Linked DNA regions of Homo sapiens: region 1 is linked to region 2. Evidence: fine-mapped expression QTL. A gene starts in region 2. The other region holds a variant in brackets. All regions are shown on one strand. Distances are between the middles of the regions.

Evidence for each region. PIP is the estimated chance that this variant, and not a neighbour inherited with it, causes the effect.
Region 1: its variant is fine-mapped to the expression of ZNF597 in blood mononuclear cells (TOPMed, PIP 0.98).

Annotation. Positions count from the first base shown.
Region 1 is chr16:3,407,808-3,423,584 of GRCh38, reverse strand. It overlaps ZNF174 (zinc finger protein 174), which reads right to left. Exons shown (of 3, transcript NM_003450.3): 3 at 14,221-15,264. The coding sequence ends at 14,666. Among named protein-coding and RNA genes, the nearest start is that of ZNF174, 14 kb to the right of the region's middle. RefSeq lists a silencer at 3,000-3,282. The variant C/A (reference allele first, on the strand shown) is at 7,331.
Region 2 is chr16:3,435,644-3,451,420 of GRCh38, reverse strand. ZNF597 (zinc finger protein 597) reads left to right here and starts at 7,917. Exons shown (of 4, transcript NM_152457.3): 1 at 7,917-8,061; 2 at 8,215-8,300; 3 at 10,488-10,614; 4 at 13,883-15,777. The coding sequence starts at 8,268. The coding sequence ends at 14,997. NAA60 (N-alpha-acetyltransferase 60, NatF catalytic subunit) reads right to left here and starts at 7,741. Exons shown (of 8, transcript NM_001083601.3): 1 at 7,584-7,741; 2 at 2,881-2,950. RefSeq lists an enhancer at 7,508-7,657.

The DNA of each region.
Region 1 (15,777 bases), 28 kb after region 2:
GAAATAAGTAACAAAATATCAATAGTAAATCTTTCCTTATTTTTTATTTTATGTTTTGTTTGTTGTTGTTTTTGTTTTTTGTTTTTGAGACAGAGTCTTGCTCTGTCTCACCCAGCTGGAGTGCAGTGGTGCTATCTTGACTCACTGCAACCTCCACCTCTCGGGCTCAAGCAATTCTCCTGCCTCAGCCTCCCAAGTAGCTGGGATTACAGTGTGTACCACCATACCCAGCTAATTTTTGTACTTTTAGTAGAGACGGGGTTTTGCCATGTTGGCCAGGCTGGTCTCGAACTCCTGACCTCAGGTGATCCGCCTGCCTCAGCCTCCCAAAGTGCTGGGATTGCAAATGTAACCCACTGCACTCAGCCAGCAATGATTTTTTGAATATCACACCAAAAGCTGAGGCAAAAAAAAAAACAAAGCAAGACACAAGAAACAAGTAGGATTACATCAAGCTATAAAACTGCTGCAAAGCAAAGGAGGCAGTCAACAAAATGAAAAGGTAGACTATGGATTAAAAGAAAATACCTGCAAATAATATATCTGATAAAGTCATCAAATATATGAGGAACTCACACAACTCAAAAACAAATTAACCAAATAGCCCAATTAAAAAATGGGCAATGAATTTGAATGGACATTTTTCTAAAGAAAACATAAAATAACCAACACATTGAATGAGGAAAAGCAGGATGGATTCCCTTTGAAAACTGGCACAAGTCAATAATGCCCTCTCTCACCACTTTTATTCAACGTAGTATTGGAAGTCCTGGCCAGAATAATGAGGCAAGAGAAAGAAAGAAAAGGCATCCAAATAGGAAGAAAAGAAGTCAGACTCTCCCTGTTTGCAGATGACATGTTTCTATCTAGGAAACCCCATTGTCTCAGCCCAAAAGTTCCTTCAGCTGATAAACAACTTCAGCAAAGTTTCAGGATACAAAGTCAATGTACAAAAATTACCGGCATTCCTATGCACATACAACAGCCAAGCCGAGAGTCAAATCAGGAAGGCAATCCCATTCACAATTGCCACAAAAAGAATAAAATACCAAGCCGTGCATGGAGGCTCACACCTGTAATCCCAGCAAGATTCCATCTCAAAAAAATAAATAAGTATATAAAATACCTAGGAATACAGCTAACTAGGGAGGTGAAAGATCCCTACAATGAGAATTACAGCACACAGCTGAAATAAATCAGAGATGACACAAATGGAAAAACATCCCATGCTCATGGATTGGAAGAATAAATATCATTAAAATGGACATATTGCCCAAAGCAATTTGTAGATTCAATGCTATTCCTATCAAACTACCAATGACATTCTTCATAGAATTATAAAAAACTATTTTAAAATTCACATGGAACCAGCTGGCTGCGGTGACTCACACCTGTAATCCCAGCACTTTGGGAGGCCGAGATGGGCAGATTACGAGATCAGGAGATTGAGACCATCCTGGCTAACACGGCGAAACCCCATCTTTACTAAAAATACCAAAAAAAAAAAAATTAGCTGGGCATGGTGGCAGGTGCCTGTAGTCCCAGCTACACATGAGGCTGAGGCAGAAGAATGGCATGAACCCGAGAGGCGGAGCTTGCAGTGAGCCAAGATTGCGCCACTGCACTCCAGCCTGGGCAACAGAGCAAGACTCTGTCTCAAAAAAAAAAAAAAAAAATTCACATGGAACCAAAAAGAGCCTGAATAGCCAAGGCAATCCTAAGCAAAAAGAACAAAGTTGGAGGCATCACATTACCTGACTTCAAACTGTCCTACAGGGCTACAGTAACCAAAACAGCATGGTACTGGTACAAAAACAGGCACATAGGCCAATGGAACAGAATAGAGAGACCAGAAATAAGGCCACACTCCTAAGATCATCTGATCTTCAATAAAGCTGACAAAAACAAGCAATGGTGTGTGGGTGGAGGGAATCCCTGTTCAATAAATGGTGCTGGGATAATTGGCTAGCCATATGCAGAAGATTGAAACTGGACCCCTTCTTTACACCATATACAAAAATCAACTCAAGATGGATTAAAGACTTAAATGTAAAATCCAAAGCTATAAAAACCCTAGAAGACAACCGAGGCAATACCGTCTTGGACATAGGATCGAAAATATTTCATGACAAAGACTCCAAAAGCAATTGCAACAAAAGCAAAAATTGAGACATGGGACCTAATTGAACTAAAGAGCTTCCTCTGCACAGCAAAAGAAACTATCAACAGAGTAAACAGACAACCTCCAGAATGGAAGAAAATATTTGCAAATATGCGTCTGACAAAGGTCTAATATCCAGCATCTATAAGGAATGTAAACAAATTTGCAAGAGAAAAACAACCCCATTAAAAAGTAGGCAAAGGACATGAACAGACAATTTTCAAAAGAAGACATACATGCAACCAACAATCATAAGAAAAAAAGCTCAATATCACTAATCATTAAAGAAATGCAAATCAAAACCATAATGAGATACCATCTCACACCAGTGATAATGGCTGTTATTAAAAAGTCAAAAAATATGCTGGCAAGATTGCAGAGAAAAGGGAACACTTATACACTGTTAGTGGGAGTATAAATTTCGCCCAACCATTGTGGAGAGCAGTATGGCGATTCCTCAAAGTGCTAAAAAGAGAACTACAGTTTGACCCCACAATCCCATTACTGGGTATGTACCCAGAGAAATATAAATCATTCTCTTGTAAAGACACATGCACATGAATGTTCACAGCAGCACCATTCACAATAACAAAGACGTGGAATCAAAGGCCCATCAGTGACGACTGGATAAAGAAAACGTACATATACACCATGAAATACCGTGCAGCCATAAAAAAGAATGAGATCATGTCTTTTGCAGGAATATCGATGGAGTTGGAGGCCAGAAACTACTGGCAGGAACAGAAAATACTGCACGGAACTTTCTTTCTTTCTTTCTTTCTTTCTTTCTTTCTTTCTTTCTTTCTTTCTTTCTTTCTTTCTTTCTCTCTCTCTCTCTCTCTCTCTTTCTTTCGTCTCTCTCTCTTTCTGTGTTTCTTTCTTTCTTTTTTTTGATGGAGTCTCACTCTGTCAACCCCTGCTGCAGTGCAGTGGTAGGACCTCAGTTCACTGCAACCTCTGCCTCCCCGGTTCAAGCGATTCTCCTGCCTCAGCCTCCCGAGTAGCTGGGACTACAGGTGCATGCCAGCATGCCCGGCTAATTTTTGTATTTTTAGTAGAGACGGGGTTTTGTCATATTGTCCAGGCTGGTCTCGAACTCCTGACCTCATGATCTGCCCACCTTGGCCTCCCAAAGTGCTGGGATTACAGGCATGAGCCACCGCACCCAGCCTGCATGGAACTTTCAATACTGTTCCACTGACCAGCCATACTCCCATCGCTCTTCCTCTCCTTGGACCTCCCTTTTCCCTGAGACACAAAAATATTGACATTAGACCACTTAATAACTCTACGATGACCTCTAAGTGTTCAAGTGAAAGGAAGAGTCACACATCTCTCACTTTATTTATTTATTTTTGGAGATGGAGTCTCGCTCTGTCGCCCAGGCTGGAGTGCAGTGTCGTGATCTTGGCTCACTACATCCTCTGCCTTCCAGGTTCAAGCGATTCTCCTGCCTCAGCCTCCTGAGTAGCTAGGACTACAGGTGTGCACCACCACTCCTGGCTAATTTTTGTATTATTAGTAGAGATGGGGTTTCACCATGTTGGCCAGGTTGGTCTCCAACTCTTGACCTTGTGATCCACCCACCCCAGCCTCCCAAAGTGCTGAGATTACAGGCATGAACCACCCCTTGGCCCATCTCTCACTTTAAATCAAAAGGTAGAAATGATTAAGCTTAGTGAGAAAGGCATGTCAAAACCTGAGACAGGCCAAAAGCTAGGTTTCTTGTGCCAAATGTTTAACCAAATTGTGAATTCAAAGGAAAAGTTCTTGAAGGAAATTTAAAGTGCTACTCCAGTGAACACATGAATGATAAAAAAGTGAAACAGTCTTTTTGCTGATATGGGGCAAGTTTGAGTGGTGTGGATAGAAGATCAAACCAGCCACAACATTCCCTTAAACTAAAGCCTAATCCAGAGCAAGGCCCAAACTCTCTTCAGTTCTGTGAAGGCTGAGAGAGGTGAAGAAGGTGCAGAAGAAATGTTGGGAAGTAACAAAAGTTGGTTCATGAGGTTTAAGGAGAAAAGCCATCTCCATAATATAAAAGTGCAAGGTGAAGCTTCAAGTGCTGATGGAGAAACTGCAGCATGTTATCCAGAAGATCTAGCTAAGATCATTGATGAAAGTGGCTACAATAAGAACAGATTTTCAATGTAGACAAAACAGCCTGCTATTGGGGAAAGATGCCATCTAAGACTTTTGTAGCTAGAGAGGAGAAGTCAATGCCTGGCTTCAAAGCCTTAAAGGGCAGGCTGACTCTTTTGTTGGGGTGAATGCCGTTGGTGAAGCCAGTTCTCATTTACCATTCTGAAAAATCCTGAAGCCCTTAAGAATTATGTTTATTCTGCCTGTGCTCTATCAGTTGAACAACAAAGACTGGATGACAACCTATGTGTTTACAGCATGGTTTGCTGAATATTTTAAGCCCATTGTTGAGACCTACTGCTCAGAAAAAAAAATATTCCTTTCCAAATATTACAGTTTATTACAATGCACCTGGACAACCAAGAGCTCTGATGGAGATATACAAGGAAGTTAATGTTTTCATGCCTGCTAACACAACATTTATTCTGCAGCCCATGGATCAAAGAGTAATTTCATTCTTCTCTTTATTTCATTTTATTTTTTTGAGATGGGCTCTCACTCCCCCAGACTAGACTGCAGTGGTACAATCATAATTCATTGCAGCCTAGCTCCTGGGCTCAAGTAATCCTCCTGCCTTGGCCTCCCAAGCAGCTGAGACTACAGCATGTGCCACCACACTTGTCCAATTTTTTAAATTTTTCTGTAGGCTGGGTGTGGTGGCTCACGCCTGTAATACCAACACTTTGGGAGGCCAAGGCAGGCAGATCACAAGGTAAGGAGATCAAGACCATCCTGGCTAACACGGTAAAACCCTGTCTTTACTAAAAATACAAAAAATTTGCCGGGCGTGGTGGCATGTGCCTGTAGTCCCAGCTACTCAGGAGGCCGAGGCAGGAGAATTGCTTGAGCCTGGGAGGTGGAGGTTGCCGTGAGCCAAGGTTGCACCACTGAACTCCAGCCTGGTGACACAGCAAGACTCTGTCTCAAAAAAAAATGTTTTTCTCTGTAGCGATGGGGACTTGATATGTTGCCCAGGCTGGTCTTGAACTCCTGGGCTCAAGTGATCCTCCCACCTCAGCCTCCCAAAGTGCTGGGATTACAGGCATGAGACACTGCTCCCAACCATAAGTGTTTGGTTTTGTTTTGTTTTTGCTTTTGTTTTTGTTTTTTTTGAGACAGTCTCACTGTGTTTCCCAGGCTGGAGTGCAGTGGCGTGATCTCAGCTCACTGCAACCTCCAACTCCTGGATTCAAGCGATTCTCCTGCCTCAGCCTCCTGAGTAGCTGGGAGTACAGGAGCACGCCACCACACCCAGCTAATTTTTCTATTTTTGTGGAGATGGGTTTTGCCATGTTGGCCAGGCTTGTCTGGAACTCCTGACCTCAAGTGATCTGGGTGCCTCAGCCTCCCAAATTGCTAGGATTACAGGTATGAGCCATGACACCCAACCATTTTGTTTTTTGAGACAGGGTCTTGCTCTGTCACTCTGGCTGAAGTACAAATGGCACAATCACAACTCACTGCAGCCTCAACCTCCTAGGCTCAAGTGATCCTCCCACCTCAGGCTCCCAAGTAGCTGGGACTACAGGCATGCACCACCATGCCCAGCTAATTTTTTAATTGTTTTGTAGAGTTGGGGTCTTCCCTGTGTTAACTCCTGGGCTCAGAGAGCAGTCCTCCCACCTTGGTCTCCCAGATTGCTGGGATTACAGACATGAGCCACTTGCACAGCCCAAAAGTGTTTTTTTGAGATGGAATCTACTCTTGGTAAAGATGCTGTGAATGTTGTTGAAATGACAATAGGATTTAGAATATTACATAAACTTAGTTAATGAAGGAGCAGCAGGATTTGAGAAGATTTTGAAAGTTCTACTGTGGACAAAATGCTATCACCCTGTATCACATGCTATGGAGAAATCTTTTGTGAAAGGAAGAGTCAACTGATTTGAAAAACTTCATTGTTATTTTAAGAAATTGTCCCTGCCACCCCAACCCTCTGCAGCCACCACACTTATCAGCATTTTGTTTATCTGATGTAATGCTTTTCCACACTTAATAGACTACAGTATAGTGTAAACATAGGTTTTATATTCACCAGGAAATCAAAACATTTGTGTGGCTCATTTTATTGGGACATTCACTTTATTGTAGGGGTCTGGAATCAAAACTGCAATATCTGTGAGGATACTGTATACAACTAAGGTACGTTATTCACAGTAGCCAAGACTTGAAAACAACCTAAGTGTCCACTGGTAGATAAATGGATACACACACACACACACACACACACACACACACAGAGCGGAACATTATTCAGCCTTAAAAAGGAGATCTATCTGCCAGGTGCAGTGGCTTACCCCTGTAATCCCAGCACTTTGGGAGGCCAAGGTGGGTGGACTGCTTGAGCCCAGGAGTTTGAGACCAGCCTGGGTAACATAGTGAGACCCCGTGTCTACAGAAAAAAATGTTTTACAAAATAAGCCACGTGTGATGGCACACGCCTGTAGTCCTAGCTACTTGGGAGGCTGAGGCGGGAGGACGACTTGATTCCGGGAGGTCAAGTGACTGCAGTGAGCTATGATTGCACCACTACACTCCAGCCTGGGTGACAGAGCAAGACTCTGTCTCAAAAAAAAAAAAAAAAAAAAAAGATTCTACCATTTTCAACAACATGAATGAACCTGTTGGACTTTGTGCTAACTGAAGTAAGCTAGACATAGAAAGAAAAAATACTACATGATCCCACTTATATACAAAATCTAAAAAAGTCAAATACATAAAAGCAGAGTAGGGTGGGTGCGGTAGCTCATGCCTGTAACCCCAGCACTTTGGGAGGTCGAAGCAGGCAGATCACCTCAGGTCAGGAGTTCGAGACCAGCCTGGGCAACATGGTGAAACTCCATCTCTACTAAAAATACAAAAATTAGCCGGGCATGGTGGCAGCATGCCTGTAATCCCAGCTACTTGGGAGGCTGAGGCAGGAGATTTGCTTGAACCTGGGAGGTGGAGGTTGCAGTGAACTGAGATCGCACCACTGCACTCCAGCCTGGGCAACAGAGCGAGACTGCATCCTCACCAAAAAAA[C/A]CAACAAAAAACAGAGTAGAATGGTGGTGGGGGCGGGGGCGGGGGAGGAAATGGGGAAATGTAGGTGAGAGGGTATAAAGTTGCAGTTATATAGGATGACTAAGTCTAGAAAGCTGATGTACAATATGATGATTATACTTAATGATATAGTACTGGAAATTTGATAAGAGTACATTTCAGGTATTCTTACTAGAGGAAAAAAATTTAAGGTAACTGTGTGAGGAGATGGATATGTTAATTTGCTTGACTATATTAATCATTTCACTATGTATATGTATATCAGAATATCATGTTGTACATCTTAAGTGTTGTACACGCTGTGGCCAGGAAGATGGAGTAGACTGTTCAGGTTGGATTCTCATGTGCTGTCCTGGAGTTGGTATCAGTTCTACCAAAATCACAGGGATTAAGTGTGAAGGAAGGATCACTTGAGTCCAGGAGTTCAGGGCTACAGTGAACCATGATTGTACCACTGTACTCCAGCCTGGGCAACAGAGTGAGACCCTACCTCAAAAAAGAGAAGAAGGAGAAGAGAGGATGGGTGCTTGGGTTAAAAATAATAGTTAAATCAGAGTAGAGAATCAGAGAGGTAATTAGAATAGTTATAAAAGTGGCTAACACCATTCAAGTGCGGGTCCTATGCCAGCCCTCCTATGCTAAGCACTTTTCCTGGATTATTTCACCATTATCATCACATTTCACACATCAGAAAATATAGGACCAGGTTGTAGGGTATGTTGGGCAGGCAGTAGGAGACAGGATGGAAGGTGCACTGGAGGTGTGTTGTTACATCTCTCAACTTCCTATGAGCTGTACAAACTCCAGAAACATTATTGAATCTCAGTCTCCTCAAATGCCAGGAAGATAATCATAGGGTCTATCTCGAATATGCTAGTCAAAGCAGATGTGCTGTCAGTTGTATCTCTGTGAGGAATCGCTGTCGTCATCAAGTGATCGCCCTGGCAAGAGAATGTTTGGGGGTGGCATAAAGACCTTCCTACCTTTGGCTGGGCGTAGTGGCTCACGCCTGTAATCCCTGCACCTTGGGAGGCCAAGGCGGGTAGATCACCCATTTGAGACCAGCCTAACCAACATGGAGAAACCCTGTCTCTACTAAAAATACAAAATTGGCCGGTTGTGTGTAATCCCAGCTACTCGGGAGGCTGAGGCAGGAGAATTGCTTGAACCCAGGAGGCGGCAGTTGCGGTGAGCTGAGATCGCGCCATTGCGCTCCAGCCTGGGCAACAATAACGAAACTCCATCTCAAAAACAAAACACAAAACATAACAAAAAAACAAAACGAAACAAAACAAAAACCTTTCTATCTTTATAAATTAGATCCTTCCTCAGTCACTTGTTATTGTGCCATTTCTGTTTTAACATTTCTTTTAGGAGCTGTGTGGTTGCAGTTTTGCCTTTGTGTAATTATTTGATTCAGATGTGTTCCTTGCTGGAGACTAGGCTTTTTTCTTTTTTCTTTTTTTTTTCCCCCGAGATACAGTCTCCCTCTGTCACCCAGGCTGGAGTGCCGTGGTGTGATCTTAGCTCACTGCAACTTCCGCCTCCTGGGTTCAAGCAATTCTCCTGCCTCAGCCTCCCTGAGTAGCTGGGACTATAAGCGCACGCCACCACGCCCAGCTAATTTTTTTTTTTTTTTTTTTTTTTTTTTTTTTATATTTTTGTTAGAGACGAGGTTTCACCATGTAGGCCAGGCTGGTCTCGAACTCTTGACCTCAGGTGATCCGCCCACCTCAGCCTCCCAAAGTACTGGGATTACAGGCGTGAACCACCGCGCCCGGCCTGGAGACTGGGCTTTCTAAGAGACCATGAGCATCGTCCGGGTTCACCATATTGCCTCCAGCCCCTATTGGTGCCTGGCGTGTTGTGGACAGTCAATAAATATTTGTCATTTGCGTGAACAAGCTTAATGAATGAACCCCAGGACACCCTTTGAGGTTCAACAGTCTCAGGCAAGCAACAGCTCAGCAGTACGTGGAGCCCACGAAAACCACAATTCCCAGAGGGCTCCGTGGCTGCCCGGCCTCCTCTTCACCCTGACAGCTGTGCCAGGCAATGGAAGGTGAGAATTCCTCGGGCTGGGCGCCAAGCAGCCCACTCAGAGGGGACTCTTTCAGGTATTTCCTGTCGAGGCCCCGCCCCTCACCCTAGGAGCGTTCTATCCTCCGGTGGCGATTTCCGGAAAAGCCTACCTGGAACATCCGGCCACAGGGCTCGCTCAGCTGCAGGGTCCTTACCTGTCTATTCCTGCCCGTTGTCCCTGGGTGACCCCGGGAATGGGGGCATGTGACTCCCCGGGGGACCGCGTTCCCTCCCTCCCAGCACGTCCCAGGCCCAGAGGAGGAGGCGGCTTCACCCTGGCGGGGGCTTGCCCTCAAACCTATCGGGCACTGACCCTTGGAGGAGGGCTCCCGGGTGCAGTGTTGAGGCGGGAAGGCAGAGATCTGCATTGAGAGGGTTTCGTTGCGATCTGCATTGAGAGGGCAACTGCAGCCAAGTAGAGCCATGTTTTGCTTTGAGAAGGTTTAAGAGGAATTCATCTAGCCAGTGAGGTCAGGGAGTCACTGTCTCACTGCTGTTTTCTTTTTTTTGAGACGGTGTTTCACTCTTGTGACTTCCAGTCTCTGGTTGCAAATATAAGGAGCTTGAAAGTTGTCACTCCATTCTAATGACAAATAAAAAGCTGAACAACCCGAAAAACCCAACAATTCTTCTGTAAGAGAAGTGAGGTCACAGGGCAAACAGCCACCCCAAAATTTGTAGAGACAGACTGGTGGATACGGAGAATCACAATCTATTGGAGCAGCTGAGGTCCTCTGGCAGACCATGCATGGGTACGGGGGCTGAGAGGAAACTTACATCTGAGTACAGGACCTTGGGTTCTTGTAGCCATTGGACCCTTCCTGGTCCTCTTGGCCTGGAGTTGAGCCTTATACCAAAGGAAGGCTATGCTTGGGGATGGTCTGTTGCCCAGGCTGGAGTGCAATGGTGCGATCTCAGCTCACTGCAACCTCTACCTTCCTTCAGCCTCGCCTCCCGGGTTCAAGAGATTCTCATGCCTCAGCCTCGTGAGTAGCTGGGACTACAGGCGCACACCACCACACGCGGCTAATTCTTTTTTTTTTTTTTTTTTTTGGTACAGACAGGATTTCACCATGTTGGCCAGGCTGGTTTTGAACTCCTGGCCTCAAATGATCCGCCTGCCTCGGCCTCCCAAAGTCCTGGGATTGCAGGTGTGAGCCACTGCGCCTGACCCCAACCCTTATAATTAAGTAGAAATCTATGGTCCTTCTCTTTTAGGAGAGATGCTCTTTGACTAACTTGATTCAAGATGGATATGTGCGGTGGGTTGAGTCATGGCACCCCAAATGTGTCCACATCCTAATACTTGGAACCCATTAAGTTTACCTTATATGGCAAAAGGGGCTTTGCAGATGTTATTAAGTTAAGGATCTTGAGATAGGGAGATTATTCTGGATTATGCCGGTGGGCCCAACATCATAACGGTCCTTATACAAGGCAAGCAGGAAGGTCATAGTCAGAGGAGAATGCGGTGGAATGAGATTGGAGTGATGCACTTTGAGGGTGGAGGCCAAAGGATGTGGGTGGCTGTTAGAAGCTGAAAAAGTCAAGGCAAGAGATTCACCCCTCAGAGCCTTCAGAGGAACCAGCCTTGCCGACAGCTTGATTTTGGCTGAGTGAAATCAATTTCAGATTTCTGACCTCTAGAACGATAAGGTTGTGGGTTTTTTTTTTTTTTTTTTTTTTTTTTTTTTGAGACGGAGTCTTGCTCTGTAGCCCAGGCTCTGGAGTGCAGTGGTGCAAACTCGGCTCACTGCAAGCTCCACCTCCTGGGTTCACGCCACTCTCCTGCCTCAGCCTCCTGAGTAGCTGGGACTACAGGTGCCTGCCACCACGCCCAGCTAATTTTTTTTGTATTTTTAGTAGAGACGGGGTTTCACTGTGTTAGCCAGGATGGTCTCGATCTTCTGACCTCGTGATCCACCCACCTCGGCCTCCCAAAGTGCTGGGATTACAGGCGTGAGCCACCGTGCCCGGCGGTTTTTTTGCTTTTTGTGTTTTTTTGTTTGTTTTTGTTTTTTGAGTCCAAGTTTCACTCTTGCTGCCCAGGCTGGAGTGCAGTGGCACAATCTCGGCCCACTGCAGCCTCTGCCTCCCATGTTCAAGTGATTCTTCTGCCTCAGCCTCCCGAGTAGCTGGGATTATAGGCGTGCACCACCACATCCGGTTAATTTTTGTATTTTTAGTAGAGACAGGCTTTCACCATATTGGCCAGGCTGATCTTGAACTTCTGACCTCAGGTGAACTTTTCACAACCTTGGCCTCCCAAAGTGCTGGGATTACAGGTGTGAGCCACCACGCCCGGCCCCAGTTTGTGTTGTTTTAAACCATTAAGCTGGTGGGTCATCTGTTACCACACCACAAAGTACCTAATACAGATGTGACTATGACTTGGAGGTTATTAAGGGACAACAGTGAAATCAGCCTGGTTTCAGTAGGGTGAGGTGGAAACACAATGAGGAAGAAAGAGGCCTTGACCAGGGAGAGGTATCAGGATGGAGCCAGGTATGGGGCAGCTCGGATACAGAAGCTAAATTCTTCATGATCTAACATAACAGATGGGAATGGGATCAGGGCCTAAAGTACCTAAAGGACCACAAAAGCTGTAAGGAAGGCCACTGGGCCTTCAATAAGCCTCTGCCCAAAAGACAGAAGCTCACCTGTGCATTCAACAGATTGTCACCAGGATCTCTGAACTCAGGCAGACATGGGCCCTGTGGGTACAGTGGGGATTCTCAACTGTTCACATACTGAACATCTGTTTCTCTTGGCTGGTTATTGACAAAGTCCAGAAGCTAAAGTTATGGAAAAACAATGTTCTTGTTTTGAAAGAGCTGTTATAGTGCATGGTAGTTTCCCAGCCTTGGTGATACTGATTTTTTGAGCCAGGTCATTGCTGTGGGGGCTGGCTGTCCCGGCACTGCAGGCGGTTCAGTAGAACCCACTAGAGGCCAGCAACAAGCCTCCCTTCCCCAGTCCTAACAACCAAAAGTGTCTTTGGACTTTGTCCGACAACCCCTGGGGGGCTCCCAGTTTGAGCACCCCTGGTGTATGGGGTCTAGCAGAGAGGCTGGACCCCAATTTTCACAGAAGTCTGCCTAGGGCTCCTCAGGGAAGGCTTTGAGAGAAGGAAACTCTTGTGAGAGGGAGGAGGCAGGAGGGAGTGGGGAGCATCAGGAAATAAAGGCAAAGGAAACAATTGTGTGCAAAGGCCCCAAAGAGGACTCATAGGTGTGCATATGTCCCTCGGCAGTTAGAAGGGACAAGAGATTCCTTGGGGGGTACAGAAGAGCTCAGCCCACAGCCCTGAGGTGACTGGTAGTTACTTGATGATACTGATGTTTTGTGAAGAATGCTACCTTGCTGAGCGTACATCTGTAATCCCAGCACTTTGGGAGTCTAAAGTGAGAGGATGGCTTGAGCCCAGGAGTTCGAGGATAGACTGGGCAACACAGTGAGACTCTGTCTCTACAAAAAAATAGAAAAATTAGCCAGGCATGGTGGTGCATTCCTGTAGTCCCAACTGCTCGGGAGGCTGAGGAGGGAGGATTGCTTGAGCCCAGAAGATCGAAGCTATAGTGAGGCATGATCACGCCAGTGCACTCTAGCCTGGGCAACAGAGTGAGACCCTGTCTCAAAAAAAAAAAATGCTACTTGCTTCTTATTTTCTGCATCAGGAATGCACTAATCTGCCAAAAGTTTTCTCTAAACTGAGCAATGAGCTAGGAATTGTATACTGATTTGCATTTTAATTTCCGCTTTGAGAAAACGAGGAGGTGGCATTAGATGATCGCTCAGGCTTATTTCCAGGGCTCATTTTATATAAATATATTTTGTCACTTAAAAATACGCTGTTGAGGTACAATTTACATATCATAAAATTAGCCCATTTCAATTATTTTTAGTAAATTTACTGAGTTGTGCAACCATCACTGTAATCCAGTCTTAGAATATTTTCATTACCCCAATCCTTTTGCTATTTTTTTTTTTTCCTGAGACAGAGTCTCACTCTGTCATCCAGGCTAGAGTGGAGTGGTGCAATCATAGCTCACTGCAGCCTCTAACTCCTGGGCTCAAACAATACTTTTGCCTCAGCCTCCAAGAGTAGCTAGCTGGGATTATAGGCATGCACCATCATGCCTGGCTAATTTTTGTATTTTTTGTAGAGACAGGATTTAGCTACATTGCCCAGGCTGGTCTCAAACTCCTGGGCTCGATCACCCTGCCTCAGCCTCTCAAAGTGCTAGGATTACATGTGTGAGCCACTGTACCCCCATTGCATTTTGTTATTCTTAAAGCTAATGGGCTAAGTGAGAAAGGAGAGTGGGAAGAATTCCCTTTTATATCTCCTTAGTACTCTTTGTCCACTACTTGCTTCTCACTGTAGCTTTTCCTTATGTGTTAGGCTGGGGTTGCAGCAACTGTGTAGATTTTTTTTTTCTCAATCAAAGGTGCTTTGAGAACAGGCACGGTGGTTCACACTTGCAATCCCAGCACTTTGGGATGCCAAGGCAGGAGCATTGCTTGAGCCCAGGAGTTCGAGACCAGCCTGGGCAACATAGCGAGACCCTGTCTCAAAAAATAAAAAGGAAAAAAAAAAGGTGCTTTGATACAAAAAAGATCCCTCAAATGTAATTTTCTTTTCTTTTTGTAAAAGCACCATCTAACTACTTGGAAACTCTTCTCGCACAAACGTGCATATTCTCATTTAATTCATCCTTTGCTATAAACAGCTAGTAATTACAGAAAGAATATGAGGGATCTATTTTCCAATTAACTTTGCCTTGAAATTCTGGTAGATCACTCATCTTTATTAAAGAAGTGTGCTCATGATAAAAAATTGTCTGGTATGACAGCAAATGCATAACTATATATATAGAATTTATCCCTTAACATATTTTAGAGGATAAAGCAACAGAGGGACGATTTAACAGTAAGCGGGCCACCTGCAGGATTGTCCTGATTCTCTCTCAGTAGTTACTCCTTGCTCTCTGCAGAGACTTAAGTTCTCTTTGCCCCAGTGCCCAGACCTGCCTTCTCTTCACCCTGTCATCATGCACGGTTGGGCCCTGGTTGGCCTTTTCTGGGCCTCCTCACAGCAGAATGTGCATCATCATTCCTCAAGGGCCTCGTGCTTTCCTTGTAAGTCACACAGTTTTTGTGATTTACATGCAAGTAAGGGGGAGGAGAAACACAAACACCTTCCGTGTGAATCTAAAGCATGGAGTGCTCCTTTTAGTCCCCATGGTGAAGTCGGTGATGCTGGTGAAGGTTTGAGCTCTGGCGAAAGCTTTTCCCACACTGGCCACACTGGTATGGCTTCTCTCCAGTGTGGATCCTCTGGTGCAGCTTCAGGGTTGACTGCCGCCCAAAGCAGTTTCCACACTCTCCGCACGTGTAGGGTCTCTCTCCTGTGTGGACTCTCTTGTGTCTCTTCAGCTCTGAATTCCACGTGAAGCTTTTCCCACAGTCATCACATTTGTAGGGTTTCTTTGCTGAGCGGGTGGGCTGGTGACCAAGATGTTGCAAACGGTTGCTCAGACTCCGTTTACCTCCTTTGCTTTTCTTTAGCTCTCTCAGTGGGTGGCTTTTTAGGGGGCTGCTGATGTATTCCACCCTGCAATGTCTCTGGTAGTGAGCAAATGGCTTTTGAGCATTTGGGGAGCTGACCTGCCTCCGTGACAACCGAGGTTCACTCATATTTGCCCCTCTTGGTTCAGGATTCTGCAGACCATTCCCTTTGGATCTGCCAGCTGACACTGCACATGGCTTTGCTCCTTTAGCCCCTTCCTGTTGTGGATTTTCCTTGTTGTCACTTCTCATTCTGGGGGCCTCTATAATTAGAAAGAAAATGCTTCATTTTCTGCACTTGGAAGAAATAACTTCAGCAAGAGTTATGAAATACTCTGAGAGGTTTCTCAAAGGGTGGCCCTCCGCTGGCAACTTGCATTAGACTCATCTGGAGCACTTGTTAAACAAGCAGGCTCTTCACCCTTCCCCCAGAGCTGCTGGGTCAGAATCTCGGGGGGTTGGGCCTGATAATCTGCACAGTTAGCAGGCTCCTGGGGTGACTGTGATTTATATTAAATTTAGGAACCAAGTTCTCCATCCTCCTTCTTCCTTTCTCCCTTTAGGGAAAGGTTTAGGAAATGAAGAACAGGGAAAAGCAAACCCATCAGAATTGGGTATCTAATGAAGAAGGAAGAGAGGTGAAATCTCAACATTGCAAATTTTACTGCTGTAGTCCAATGCCTGAGCTATTTCAACAAATACCCCTCACTTAGTAAACACTAATTGACAACCACCTTCTCTTCAAAAGATGGTAAGTTCAGAGACTGTGATGTTTT
Region 2 (15,777 bases):
TGCCTGTGGTAAATTATTTTAAAGCAAAACAAAAGGATACATTGGTGAAAAATAAGTTACCCTCCCTCCAACTCAGTACCCAAGTTCTCCAGCTAACTCATCTTACCATTTTCCTGGTATCCATTCAGAGATATTATTTACATGGACAAGTACTATATTTTCATAAATAAAAGGCGTGCAAGTGAAATGGAGGCTGGGCTTAGATACTGGATTCTTTTCATTTCTTCCTTCCCCATTCTGGGTACAAATGGTGACCAAGGAAATGTGTTATTACACACATCCTGCCTTTGAGGAGTTACGTGATTACAAGACAATCTGATAAGCACTGCAACAGAGGTGTTTGTTGTACAAACAACAATGGAGCTTCTAGAATGGAACAGAGTAAATGCATTATTTACTAAGTGTCTGCTATACGCTAAACACTGAGTTATAATCCCTCCTGCATGTTCTAATTGACTTCTAACTTACAATGCTTGTACTGTACATTCTAATTTACAATGGCCTTGAAAGTTCAGTATTGTTGTCCTCATTTTACAGATGATGAAACACCCACCCAAGGCTTCTATACCATGCAGAATGATGCCTCTCTCCACTGGCTGCCCTGAGCACATGCCATGAAGAATGAAAGCCAGGAGACAAAGGAACAAACTAGTTCATCATTAAAACCTGTATGCTTTCCCTTGGATCACAACTTTCTTTTTTTTTTTTTTTTTTTTTTTTTGAGACGGAGTCTCACTCTGTCGCCCAGGCTGGAGTGCAGTGGCACGATCTCGGCTCACTGCAAACTCCGCCTCCCGGGTTCACACCATTCTCCTGCCTCAGCCTCCCGAGTAGCTGGGACCACAGGTGCCCACCACCACGCTCGGCTAATTTTTTGTATTTTTAGTAGAGATGGGGTTTCACCATGTTAGCCAGGATGGTCTCGATCTCCTGACCTTGTGATCCGCCTGCCTCAGCCTCCCAAAGTGCTGGGATTACAGGCATGAGCCACTGCGCCCAGCAGGAGCACAACTTTCCTGACTCACCCAGAAAGAAATCCACAAGCTTCCAAAACCAGCCTTCCTAGGCAGACCCTGAGAACATTTTTCCCAGGGTCCCAGAAACAAATCATGAACAAACCACTTCATGGCAAGCCCTGTGGCTTGCTGACCAGCCTCTGCTCTGCCTGAGAGGCCTCCAGACCACCCCAGGAGCACTCCCAGAAGAGCAGAAAAGCTCCATGAGACTAGCACAAGGGACAGTGAATTATCCCAACTCATGGTTCTGAAGGGTTTATTAATGTATGCATGGATCAAAACCCTTTCAGTCAGGAGCCAAATATTTTGCTTCCAAATATTTTGCTTCCAAAGAAATTCTTCTTTAGTTCCTTCTTCTTCTTTTCTCTTTTTTTGAGACGATGTATTAGTCTGTTTTCACACTGCTGATAAAGACATACCTGAGACTGCGCAATTTACAAAAAAAAGAGGTTTAATGGACTTACAGTTCCACGTGGCTGGGGAGGCCTCACAATTACGGTGGAAGGTAAAAGGCATGTCTCACATGGTGGCAGACAAAAGAGGGCTTGTGCAGGGAAACTCCCCTTTTTAAAAACCATTAGATCTCGTGAGACTTATTCACTATCATGAGAACAGCATGGGAAAGACCTGCCCCACGATTCAATTACCTCCTACTGGGTCCCTCCCATAATATATGGGAATTGCAGATGAGATTTGGGTGGGGACACAGCCAAACCATATCAGATGGGGTCTCGCTCTGTCACCCAGGCTGGAGTGCAGTGGTGCGATCTCAGCTCACTGCAACCTCCATTTCCTGAGTTCAAGCAATTCTTCTTCCTTAGCCTCCCGAGTAGCTGGGACTACAGTTGGGCGCCACCATGCCTGGCTAAATTTTTCTTTTTTTTTCTGAGACAGAGTCTTGCTCTGTCGCCCAGTCTGGAGTACAGTGGTGTGATCTCGGCTCACTGCAACTGTCACCTCCCAGGTTCACACCATTCTCCTGCCTCAGCCTCCCAAGTAGCTGGGACTACAGGTGCCCACCACCACGCCCAGCTAATTTTTTGTATTTTTAGTAAAGATGGGGTTTCACCGTGTTAGCCAGGATGGTCTCGATCTCCTGACCTCATGATCCACCTGCCTTGGCCTCCCAAAGTGCTGGGATTACAGACGTGAGCCACCACGCCCAGCACACCCGGCTACATTTTTGTATTTTTTAGTAGAGATGGGGTTTCAACATGTTGGGCAGGCTGGTCTCGAACTCCTGACCTCCAGAGATCTACCCGCCTCACCTCCTAAAGTGCTGGGATTACAGGCGTGAGCCACTGCGCCCAGCCCTTTGGCTCCTTCTTTATGAGTAGATAATGAAAAATAAATTTTTAACAAAAGAAATTCTCCTTTGGTATAAAATGATGCAAGTGTGTAAGACGGATCACCACAGATGATACTGCTTCCTTTGATTAGAACCAAACCAGAGGTGGCACAGGATGACCACCACGTGGCTACACAGACCAATCTCAGAGGGTCAGGGCAGCACACTGGGAGAGTCTCGTTCTCCACTAACATTGTCAGTGTGCCCTGAGACTGGGCTTACCCATCAGACTCACAAGAGACTGATGCTTAAACCAAATCTTGTTTACTTCTTTATAGTTTAAAGAGGCTGGCATACTTGTACTGTATCCCTGTGTACCTAACGTAAGAATATACTCATTTACCCTCCTAGCAAAAAAGTGAAAGCATTTGTTTCACTAGGCGCCTTCTATCATTCAGTACTAAAAATTAAGAGAATATTTAATACTTGACAGGTCAAAAATGGATTTCACTTAAGTAGGCTTCCTCTGACTATGAGGGCATCATTAATAGCAGGACACAGAGCGCTTTGACTCACTCTCTGGAGCTCTTCTCCCAACTCAGGCTGGCTCCGCACTTCCTTCCTCCAGGTACAGCCTTTCTGTATGCTGCAGGGGAGAAAGACACAAGGCCATCACTTCACTCCTGGCCATCCCATCTCTACAACTCATAGGCTAATGAGTGTCAGACAAACCCTGGATCTCAGAGTATCAATCTGATGGGCCCTTTTGGGGAAAAATTAACTATCTAAACATGTAGTTCTCTAAACTACAAAGCAACCCATGTTTTTTTTTTTTTTTTTTTTGAGACAAGGTCTTGCTCTGTCATCCAAGCTGGAGTGCAGTGGCACAATGCTAGCTCACTGCAGCCTCGAACTCCTGGACTCAAGTGATTCTCTTGCTTCAGCCTCTAAAGTAGCTGGAATTATAGGTGTGAGTGACCACGCCCAGCCTCCAACCCATCCTTTCTTCTCTGTCCTCACTGTATCTAACCTGCATTCTCTGTACCTCTTACTACCCTCCAGGAGTCTTTGGTTGCAGCTTCTAGTAACGATAATTATTCAGTATGAGTAGGTCAAGAATCTTTCTCTGGAAGCACCTCTGCCTCAGTGACTGAAAAAGAATTCTGTTGGGAGTTAACACAGACCAAGCCAGTTTTTGGTAACAGAATTAACATGTTGAAGGTACGTTTAGAGCCCTGAGCTTTTTTCTAATTAAAAGACTCCTATTAGTTTCAACTCAAGGCTAAATGAAACTAAAAAGACTCCTATCCAGCTAGAAGTTGTGCTAATTTCAAAACTGTGTGAGCCTCTTGTTCTTGCAGGCATGACTTGCAGCCATTGTCCCCTTATAAGACTGGAGACTAGGTAGCAACAGTTTTCTAACTGCTCAATCAAGCATTCTGAACACCAGTAAGAAAACCTCTTGCTGAAGTTGGGAGAAAGATAATCTTGCTTACCTAGGCCCCCTTAGTGTAGGTGAGAAGGCTCTGTGTCAGTTTCCGATCAGTATCAACTTCCCATGAAGGATACGGTAAAGGCGGTAAGAACCAGAGCCATACTTATGTTTAAGTAATAGACCTTAAAAGGCAGTACCATCTGGGAATGGAAAACACACCAAACGTAGTGAGCAATTCATTCTGGAAATCATGTTAAACATCGCCAGGGAAGATACCCCATTTACCTTGAAGTGATTACACATTGCATGCCTGCATCAAAATATTTCATGTACCACATAAATATATACACCTACTATGTACCCATAAAAATTAAAAATATAACTACCACTACCATTTTAACGCATAGTCTTCAAAAGCAACTTTGTTATTGTTTTTGTTTCATAACCAATTTTACTCCCAAAAATGAGTATCTTTCCGTTTCAATATACAGCTGCATCATCATAAAAATCACTAGGGAAAAGATATATACTTAAGAATAGGGGCCGGGGGCAGGGGCTCACGCCTGTAATCCCAGCACTTTGGGAGGCCAAGGCGGGCAGATCACAAGGTCAGGAGTTCGAGACCAGCCTGGCCAATATGGGGAAAACCCGTCCTCTACTAAAAATACAAAAATTCGCCAGGTGTGGTGGTACGCACCTATAGTCCCAGCTACTCGGGAGGCTGAGCCAGAAGAATTGCTTGAACCTGGGAGATGGAGGTTGCAGTGAGCAGGCCAGGTGCGGTGGCTCATACCTGTAATCCCAGCACTTTGGGAGGCTGACATGGGCGGATCACTTGAGGCCAGGAGTTTGAGACCAGCCTGGCCAACATGGCAAAACTGCATCTCTACTAAAAATACAAAAATTAAATGGTTGTGGTGGCATCTGCCCATCATCTCATCTACTCTGGTAGCTGAGGCACAAGAATCACTTGAACCCAGGAGGCGGAAGTTGCAGTGAGCAGAGATCGCACCACTGCTCTCCAGCCTGGGCAACAGTGAGACTGTCTCAAAAAAAAAAAAACAAATAATAAAGAGTAAATAGTGGTGATCTCTGGGTGACAGGAATGTGTTGCCATTTTTTCCCCTGTATTTTCTTTTTTTTTTTTTTTTCAGACAGAGTCTCACTCTGTCACCCAGGCTGGAGTGCAGTGGTGTGATCTCGGCTCACTGCAAGCTCCGCCTCCCAGGTTCACGCCATTCTCCTGCCTCAGCCTCCCGAGTAGCTGGGACTACAGGTGCCCGCTACCACGCCTGGCTAATTTTTTGTATTTTTAGTATAGATGGGGTTTCATCGTGTTAGCCAGGATGGTCTCGATCTCCTGACCTTGTGATCTGCCCACCTCAGCCTCACAAAATGCTGGGATTACAGGCGTGAGCCACCGCACCCAGCCTTTCCTAACTTTCTGAAATGCACATATACTACTTTTGTAATGATGTTAGTTTTACTATTTTTAAAAAGATAATTTTCAGAGAAAGCAGATGCTGGGCTATAGAAATAATTTCAATACAAACAGGTTGTAGTTGTTATTACTGGTACCATGTTAAAGACAGAAATGGAAAAACTTGCAAAAGATTGTCGTGGAAGGATTTTTAAATTTTGATGATTAAAACATGTTACTTGAACATATAGTGGGTATACAGTCAAGCATTTGTGATTTTTTACAAAATTGAGTTAGGGATATAATGTGGTCTAATTTTTCAATCTTGGTCTATCTTGGACTTTGTATGTCATCTCTTTATTTTCAGGAAGATAAAGCTTTCAAGCTTCCTCCTTCTTTGTCCACTTGTTTATAGTTTTGATGGCTCTTAGGAAAGATAGTCTAGGGAAGATTTTTTCCTCTCCCATTTCAGGTATATCCCTCTCTCTCTGGTAATCCACTGAGTTAATACCACATGCTTCATTTCAAAGCATTGGAAACTGTGTTTATTTCTTTGTAATTATGGCAACAGGATTTAAAGAAGAGAGCCACGGGAGTCTCTTGTTCTTGGTGAAAGAGCCACAAATCCAGATAAGGAGAATCTCAGACCACAATGAGACAGTGCTGATGTAAGAATAGCATTAAATAGGCGGGGCGCGGTGGCTCACGCTTGTAATCCCAGCACTTTGGGAAGCCGAGGTGGATCATGAGGTCACGAGATCGAGACCATCCTGGCCAACATGATGAAACCCCATCTCTACTAAAAATACAAAAAAAAAAAATTAGCCGGACGTGGTGGCGGGCACCTGTAGTCCCAGCTACTCAGGAGGCTTAGGCAGGAGAATCATTTGAACCCCGGAGGCAGAGGTTGCAGTGAGTCAGGATTGTGCCACTGCACCCCAGTCTGGCTACAGAGTGAGACTGTCTCAAAAAAAAAAAAAAAAAAGAGATAAGCACAAACCAAGAAGGGAAAGATGACTACGTGAACACCACAGTGACTCAACCATGAACATCTCCTTTACTTACACCTTCATATACAGGCTATTAGCTCTTCTTCAACATATATGCTTTGGACTGGTCTAGCCTGTAGGCAAGTTTGTTCTTACCATTCTTCCACCTGTCCTGGAAGCACCTTTACTGGGACTTCACAGCTACCTCTTTTGTGATCCATCCCCACAAGGTCTAGCTCTTAGTTAGCTGTCAAGAGATATCATTTGTGGCAGATACTGCTAGTTTCTTATCTAACTTATTTTCCACATCTCTTTTTTTCATTTGTAACAAAGCCCTAATTTTGTGCAGGTAGATTATCAAGGGAGGCTAGGTCCTTCCCCTAGTGACAGGGGCTGAAGCATGATGGGCCCCAAACAATTATTTATTCTTGGTAATAACTAGTTTAGGATGGGTACATGACACAATACATGTCTGTATATTTTACCTGGATTCTATTGTCAACGTTACCAACATGCTTAGGGTGGCAGAGAAGCACTGGGACCTTGATGTTGTCACTGGGCCACCGAATTAACCAACCTGTAACTGCTCTTTGAACATCCTTTCGGTGGGTTTTCTGTTACTTGTAGCTGAAACTATCCTATCAGATATTCCACAAAATCACATTACCTAAGTTGTCAAATCTCCTAATATTGTTTTAATAACCATGCAGCCATTCATTAAGCTTTTAGATACAGGAATGTGCCTGGCACTGGAATAAGGAAATATGTTGAGACTTTTCAGGCTTTTCTATCAAGGTACCTATCATTTTCGTCTTTTTTTTTCCCCAAACACCTTTATAAACTGGCAATTTCTTTCACTTACATTATCTTATAATCTTTGAAATTACCCTCTGAGTTAGCCCAGAGAGGCACTCTGAGCTGTTTGCAGCTGAGGAAAGCAAAGTTGTAAACTGGCCAAGATTACCAACCAATCAGTGGCAGAGCTTGGGGAGGAGCTCAATTTTCCAATTCCAAATGCCTACACCAGGGCACTCCCTCCTCCCCCAGCACACAATAGGAAATGACTGGCTCTAGGGTAGGCTGCATGTGAGGTATCCGGGGGCGAACAACGTCCTGCGACGCTAACCTATGGCTCTATTCTCGCGTGGGATCCTGTGACTAGGAAGCTGAAGCAGCTCGCTTAGGCTGCAGCTGCGGGTACAATACGTAATGCCTCTATAACACTTTGAGTCAGAGTCCAGCAACCTGGCCTACACCGATGTGAACGTTGTGAACGTACACAAAGATACTCCTTCATGTTCCACGGCCCCACCATCCGCTCAAGACACAAAGGACAGCTCAAGCCCAGGCTAGGCCCGAACCCCCGCCCTCTCAATCACCTTGCTCTGGCCAGACCGAAATTTCAGGCCTACAGGGCACTGTTGGCCGAACCCACATTTTGTTACCGATTTTCTTTCGAGTTCCGGTGTCTCCCAGTCTTCTTTCTGTCCTTCTTCTCGGAAACATTACGTCCCCCTGGGGTCACCCTAAGACTCTACTTCAGCAGGCAAACAGGCCCGGAGCTCACGGAGGAGACCCCGCCAGCGGAAGCGGAAATGGTTGCTTAGAGAAAAGGAGGAAAACTACCTCTCGCAGCTGCCCAGTGGCTACAGGTCCTCGGTTAAGGTGTTCAATTGGTCAACACAAAAGAAGGACTTCCCCTTCGGGAGAACTTCGACCAATCAAAGGGCAGGATGGCGGAGAGGGCTGAGGGCGGGTCGCTTCCGGCGGCTTTTCCCGCAGCTCCTGCGTAAAGGAGCATGAGAGCGTGGGAGTTTTGCAGTGGCCGTGGCGTTCTTCGTCGCGTCTCGGTCGGGCGTCGCTTTCTGCAGCTCCTGTCAGGGAGCGCGAGGCCTGTTATTAACCGCGGAGCGGTAAGTGGGCCCCTTTCGAGGCCGGGCCAAGAGGAGGAGCAGTCGGCGTAGGTTTTTAAGGGGGGGTTCGGAGGGAATCGAGGGAGGCTAGGGGTAGTGGAGGAACTTGGCAGCGGAATTGGTCCCTTTAAGAACTGTTCTCTCCCCCCGCAGCTTTGTCACGAAGTCCCTGTGGCGTCTTGAAGAAGGCATTCCCCACCCGCCAAATGGCGTCCATGCCCCCGACGCCCGAGGCCCAGGTGAGTCGAGGTACCTTTTTCGTCCAAGTTTATTGCTGCTTTCGGTCTCTGCCTGACCCCCTCCTTTGGAGGAGAGTTGGGCATGCCTGTTGTGGTAGGAGTGCTCCTGAGCCCCAAATAGCCCTTTGACCAAGTGTTCTTCGTTCCAAGACCACACACATAATGGTTTACCAACTTCCTTCTTTCAGAACTACCAACTGGGAGCAGGGACCTGTGGAGGAATCTCTGAGAGAGTTTCTCAATGTCTTATCTGTTTGTTTTGTTTTGTTTGGAGATAGGGTCTGGCCTTGTCGCTGGAGTGTTGCTTGTCTGGCTGGAGTGCAGTGCTGATATCATAGCTCCGTCTGGAACTCAGGGAATCCTTACGCCTCAGCCTCTCGAGTATCTGAGAGGCGCGCATACCACAGTGTCTGGCTACTTTTAAAAGTTCTTTTTTTTTTTTTTTTGATACAGAGTCTCGCTCTGTCGCCCAGGCTGGAGTGCAGTGGCGCGATCTCGGCTCACTGCAAGCTCCGCCTCCCGGGTTCATGCCATTCTCCTGCCTCAGCCTCCCGAGTAGATGGGACTACAGGCGCCTGCCGCCACGCCCTGCTAATTTTTTGTATTTTTAGTAGAGACGGGGTTTCACCGTGTTAGCCAGGATGGTCTCAATCTCCTGACCTTGTGATCCGCCCGCCTCGGTCTCCCAAAGTGCTGGAATTACAGGTGTGAGCCACTGCGCCCGGCCTAAAACTTCTTTATGGAGATGGAGTCTTGCTGCTTTGCCAAGGAACTCCTGGCCTTCAGCTATCCTCCCACCTCGGCTCCCCAAAGTGCTAGGATTAAAAGTGACTTTCTGGAATGGTTCCCAAAATTACAGATTTGGTACTTCTCCAATTTGAATGAATTTTTAAATTAAGCACATTTCTAGACTCCACACTCGTTGAGTAATAATAAATCCCAAGTGATTAATTTATCACACCGTTAGAGAAGGTGGGGTAGGCCTGGATGAAGTGCTGGAGTGAGCTTAGCAATGAGTGTCATGGGGACGAGAGGAAATAGCAAAGGGAAGGATGTTGGGAGAATCCTGTAACCTTTATCTCTTTATGATTCTTCCTGGGCTGCCCAACTTTCTCCTTTTCTTTTCTTTTTTTTTTTTTTTTTGAGACAGTCTCGCTGCGACGCCTAGGCTGGAGTGCAATGGCGCGATCTCGGCTCACTGCAATCTCTGCCTCCTGGATTCAAACGATTCTCCTGGCCCAGCCTCCCAAGTAGCTGGGACTACAGGCGCATGCCACCACATCTGGCTAATTTCATTTTATTTTAATTTATTTTTTGAGACAGAGTTTTTTTTGTTGTTGTTTTGTTTTTGTTTTTGTTTTTGAGATGGAGTGTCGCTCTGTTGCCCAGGCTGGAGTGCAGTGGCACGATCTCAGCTCACTGCAAGCTCTGCTTGAGACGGAGTTTTACTCTTGTTGCCCAGGCTGGAGTGCAATGGTGCAATCTCGGCTTACTGCAACCTCTTTCTCCTAGGTTCAAATGATTCTCCTGCCTCAGCCTCCCAAGTAGCTGGGATTATAGGCATGCGCCACCACACCTGGCTAATTTTTTGTATTTAGTGCAGACAGAATTTCACCATGTTGGTCAGGCTGGTCTTGAACTCCTGACCTCAGGTGATCCACTCGCCTCCACCTTCCAAAGTGCTGGGGTTACAGGCGTGAGCCACTGTGCCCAGCCTTAATTTTTGTAATTTTAGTAGAGACAGGGTTTCACCATATTGGCCAGGCTGGTCTCGAACACCTGACCTCAAGTCATCTGCATCCCCCTCAGACTCCCAAAGTGTTGGGATTACAGGCATGAGCCACCACACCCGGCCCCAAACCTCTCCTTTTCTTAGAGCATCCTCACTTAATGGTTGCCTCCCTAAGAGCCATTCCCTCATCTTTTCTCTTTCAAGATAGACAATAATTCTCACAGTCCACCGTCCTTGTACCACTGCCTAAAAATGTATGTCCATGTTTACTCTCTTCTTCCCAACCCTCACCCCACCCCTTAGAACCCATTTGCCCTACTTCTGCGCTCAAGAACCTTTTACACCGAGCCTTTTATCCCGTGCATCTGATGTTTCTAGCTCTTTTCATCCTTCCTAGGTTAAGTGAGGGGCTGACCCTCCACCCTCTTGTGCTGACACAGGCTCTTGTGTTTCAGGGACCAATACTCTTTGAGGATCTGGCTGTGTATTTTTCTCAAGAGGAGTGCGTGACTCTGCACCCTGCCCAGAGGTCCCTCAGCAAAGATGGTACAAAAGAGTCTTTGGAGGATGCGGCTTTGATGGGTAAGGCAATTGTTTTTCCTGCATCTGGAACTTTTGTCAATTCTAGGAGGAGAACTTCATGCTTTATCCAGATGTTGGTATGGTGGAGTGGGACCTGTCCCTCAGTAATTTATGTGGAGGTGATAATTGTGTGAGAGAAAAAGTTTTAAAATATGAGATGATTTTTTTTTTTTGAGACAGACTCTCGCTCTGTTGCCCAGGCTGGAGTGCAGTGGCACGATCTCTGCTCACTGCAAACCGCGCCTCCCAGGTTCACGCCATTCTCCTGCCTCAGCCTCCCGAGTAGCTGGGACTACAGCCGCCTGCCACCATGCCCAGCTAATTTTTTGTATTTTTAGTAGAGACAGGGTTTCACCGTGTTAGCCAGGATGGTCTCAATCTCCTGACCTTGTGATCACCCGCCTCGGCCTCCCAAAGTGCTGGGATTACAGGCATGAGCCACTGAGCCCGGCCGAGATGATCTCTTAAAGACAAAAATTCAGTCTAGTACAGTGCCTGTGGTTTAGTACAAGAGATGGCAGTATTTGGTAATCTTTCACAAACATTTGTTGCAGTTTACAATTTTACTTGGGAAATCCCATTAGTATCGATCACTATCATTTGCTAAAGACTGGAGATTGATTTACTCTTAAGGGGTGCTATGCCTTACTCACCTAAGGGGAACCATACACAGATGGACTCCTGTGCCTGACTAGATTTTATTTCTGACTAGGATTGAGTATCTAAACTATCTATTCTAAGTAGTTATTCTAAATAGTTTGGAATAGTTGAGATACTCAATCCTAGTCAGAAAAAAATAACTAGAGTAACTAGTTATTCTGAATAACTCATATTTTGTTTCTTCCACTTCTCTCTTCATCATGTTCATGTTGTCTTCTGTCTGCGTAAATGTATGGAGTATATTTATAATGGTTATTTAAACTTTTTTTTCTTGCTAGTTTTAACATTGATGTCATTTCTGGGTCTGTTTCTATTGATTGATTTGTCTTCTAGTTATGGGTTATATTTTCTATATTTTCTTTACTTCCTGGGTAAATTTTGGTCGGATGTTAGATTAAGAATTTTATGTTGTTGGACCCGGGATTTCGTTGTATTTTTAAAAATATTTTGGACTTTGTTGTGGGAGGCAGTTAAGTTACTTGGAGTCAGTTTGACTGTTTCAAGGTGTGCTTTTTTTTTTTGCTTTGTTAGGATAGGTTCAGATCAACCTTTCTGCTAGGACTTATTTGAGTTACTGCTAAGGCAGTTTTTTTCTGTGGACGTTGCTGCTCAATGTCTTATGTCTTTCCACTTTGGCTGGAGGCAACATGAACTGGTTATTGCTCTGTTATTCCTTTTAGGTGGTTCTTTCCACGGCATTGGGTAGTTTCTTCATGCACTTGTAGATTACTACTCAGCCAAAGTTGTGGGGTTATTTTTTTTTTGATACAGTATCTTGATCTGTCACCCAGGCTGGAGTGCAGTGGCACAATCACGGCTCACTGCAGCCCTGACCTCCCAGGCTCAAGCAGTCCTCCCACCTCAGCCTCCCAAGTAGCTGGGACTACAGGCATGCACTACCATGCTTGTCTTTTTTTGTTGTTTTTTTTTTGTAGGGATGGGGCTTTGCCATGTTGCCCAGGCTGGTCTCGAGCTCCGTGGCTCAAGCAATTCTCCCACCTCAGCCTCCCAATGTGCTGGGATTACAGGTTTGAGCCACTGTACCTAGCCTCAGGAAAGTCTTAAGGGGACCCCATGTAGATGACCTGAGCTCTCTTTCTGAACAGCTGCCTCTTTGCTGTTTTGCTTTCAAATTCTAGCTGCCTTGGCATCCCTGATCTCTGAACTCAGTCCCCTCAAATCAGCAAAACCACTTGGTACTGTTTGGATTCCCATGAACTATACTGCAGCCCTTTCTAGTCAGTGAGTTGGGAAAACTGTAGAACTTTGTTTCTCTGGAAAGAAAAGTTCCTTTTGTATTGATATATTTGCTTTATAACTGAAGAATACTTGGAAAATATTACACAGGAATGTTAGTTTTGTCAGCCATTCTTGTAAGTAGATTGGCTGTTATTTTCATGCAGTACACACAGCCTTCTACCTTGATCTTTCCTCAGTGAGGAGTAAAGAGATTTTGGAGAGTTCTCCTGGTGATAATAAAACTATTTCTGATAACCCGTGTGTTTCTTTGTTATGGAAGAAAAATGCTCACTTGATTGCTTTTTTTTCTTTTTTCTTTTTTAATTATTATTATTATTTTTTTTTGAGACAGAGTCTTGCTCTGTCGCCCAGGCTGGAGTGCAGTGGCGCGATCTCGGCTCACTGCAAGCTCCGCCTCCTGGGTTCACGCCATTCTCCTGCCTCAGCCTCCCGAGTAGCTGGGACGACAGGCGCAGGCCACCACGCCCAGCTAATTTTCTGTATTTTTTTTTAGTAGAGATGGGGTTTCACCGTGTTAGCCAGGATGGTCTTGATCTCCTGATCTCGTGATCCACCCGCCTCGGCCTCCCAAAGTGCTGGGATCACAGGTGTGAGCCACCGTGCCCAGCCTCTTTTTAAAAATTATTTTCTTTCCCACTCATTCTTGCTGTCATCTTTTTTTTTTTTTTTTAAGAAACAAGTTCTGGCTCTGTCACCTAGGCTGGAGTGCAATGGCACATCTCAAACTCCTGAGCTCAAGTGATCCTCCTGTCTCAGCCTCCTGAGTATCTAGGACTATAGGCATGTGCCACCATGCCTGGCTAATTTTTAAAAATTATTTTTTGTACAGATGGGGTCTCACTGTGTTGCCCAGACTGGTCTCAAACTCCTAGCCTCAAGTGATGCTCCCACCTCAGCTTCCCAAAGTGCTGAGATTACAGACGTGAGACACTGCCCAACCCCTCTCTTTGTTGATAAATATGAATCCTAATCTTTTTTCCAATTGTTAATTGTTCTGCTGTCACTTGAGATAGCTTCAAAAATGAAAGGCTCTTGAGGCCTAAATAGATTAGATGGAAAAGTTCACCTCTAGATAGCTGCTACTGAGATTGTCCTTAGTACCTATCCCACTGGACTCTGACTTAGTTATAGCTATTCTCTCCTTACCTTTGGATATTCACCCAAAACTGGATCTTCTGGGAGGCCAGGAGAGTCTGCTTGGTCCTGATTTTGTGTGGTTAGTGTCTGGGTTATAGAATAACCCTTCTAAGGTTTCCTGGTCCTGTTTGTAACTACCTTAGCTTACTTTTTCCCCAGTATCCCTTGAAGATATTGTCTATGTTTTGCTTTCTTTTGTTTTTATCAACAGGAGAGGAAGGCAAGCCTGAGATTAATCAGCAGTTAAGCCTAGAGTCTATGGAACTTGACGAGCTTGCCTTAGAAAAGTACCCCATTGCTGCACCCCTTGTCCCTTACCCAGAAAAATCCTCTGAGGATGGAGTTGGAAACCCTGAAGCGAAAATATTAAGTGGAACTCCCACTTACAAGAGAAGGGTCATCAGCCTTTTAGTTACCATTGAAAACCACACCCCATTAGTAGAACTCTCTGAATATTTAGGAACCAACACACTTTCTGAAATTCTTGATTCTCCCTGGGAAGGAGCCAAAAATGTGTACAAATGTCCTGAGTGTGACCAAAACTTCAGCGATCATTCATACCTAGTTTTGCATCAGAAAATTCATTCAGGAGAGAAAAAACATAAATGTGGTGACTGTGGAAAGATCTTCAATCATAGAGCCAACCTGAGGACACACAGGAGAATCCATACTGGTGAGAAACCTTATAAGTGTGCCAAGTGCAGTGCCAGCTTTCGCCAGCACTCTCATCTATCCCGACACATGAATAGCCACGTAAAGGAGAAGCCCTATACATGTAGCATATGTGGTAGAGGTTTTATGTGGCTCCCAGGATTGGCACAGCATCAGAAAAGCCACAGTGCTGAAAACACCTACGAATCTACTAACTGTGATAAACATTTTAATGAGAAACCAAATCTTGCTTTGCCTGAGGAAACATTCGTATCAGGCCCCCAGTACCAGCACACTAAGTGCATGAAGAGCTTCAGGCAGTCCTTATATCCTGCCCTTTCCGAGAAGAGCCACGACGAGGACTCTGAACGCTGCAGCGATGATGGGGACAATTTCTTCTCATTCTCAAAATTCAAGCCCTTACAGTGTCCTGACTGTGACATGACCTTTCCTTGTTTCTCTGAGCTTATTTCCCATCAGAACATTCATACAGAGGAAAGGCCCCATAAGTGCAAAACATGCGAGGAAAGTTTTGCTTTGGACTCAGAACTTGCATGCCACCAGAAGAGCCACATGCTAGCGGAACCTTTTAAATGTACCGTGTGTGGGAAAACTTTCAAGTCGAATTTGCATCTCATTACTCATAAGCGAACTCACATAAAAAACACCACGTAAAGTAAATATAACAAATTGTTATTAGTGATTGGGCTTTTCAGTATCTGTATGGTGGGAAGCAGTTACTGTATATGTCCCAGGCAATGTGCTAAGCACTTTACACACATTCCCATGTAATACTTAATTCTCAGCACAACCGTGATTTAGGCAGTATCATTTCCATTTTATAAGTAGGGATGCAAAATCCGTGTCACTAAACTAGTGAATGAACCCAGGATTTGAACTCAGTTACTGTACAACTGTGAGCCAGAAGAAGATACACAACTTTTGTTTAAATTCAATTTTCATTAAAATGAAGGCTCTTGCTAAAGTTATTTTAATTTTGTTTACGTAGTTTCTGACTTTTAGAAGGAGGAGAATTTATTTATATTTTGCCAGTTCTGCAGACATATCTAGGAAAGTAAATGCTTTTATATGTTTTATACTTTTTTTTGCTATAACTATTTGAATGTAATACTTGTATAAGATTGCTGTTCTACATGTGAATTCCCACAGGCGTTCAGAAGTTTTTTTCTGCCCTGTAAAAGTTCCCAAATGGGTAGACTAGTTTATATTTTGATGGCCATTAGTATCCGGAGTTCTCTGTCATGGTTCTGATGCCAGGGGCACATACTGGCATTTAGGACCCAATTGTTTGCAAGGAGTTTTGGAAGTCTAACTGCAGCCCTTTTCTGGAGGCTGGACTTGACTTGGGGAGGGGGAGAAGTACTTGCTCTTTTCTAAGATTTGCCTCCAAATTGCTACTGAAGCACATTACCTGTCTTACTATGAATAATTGTA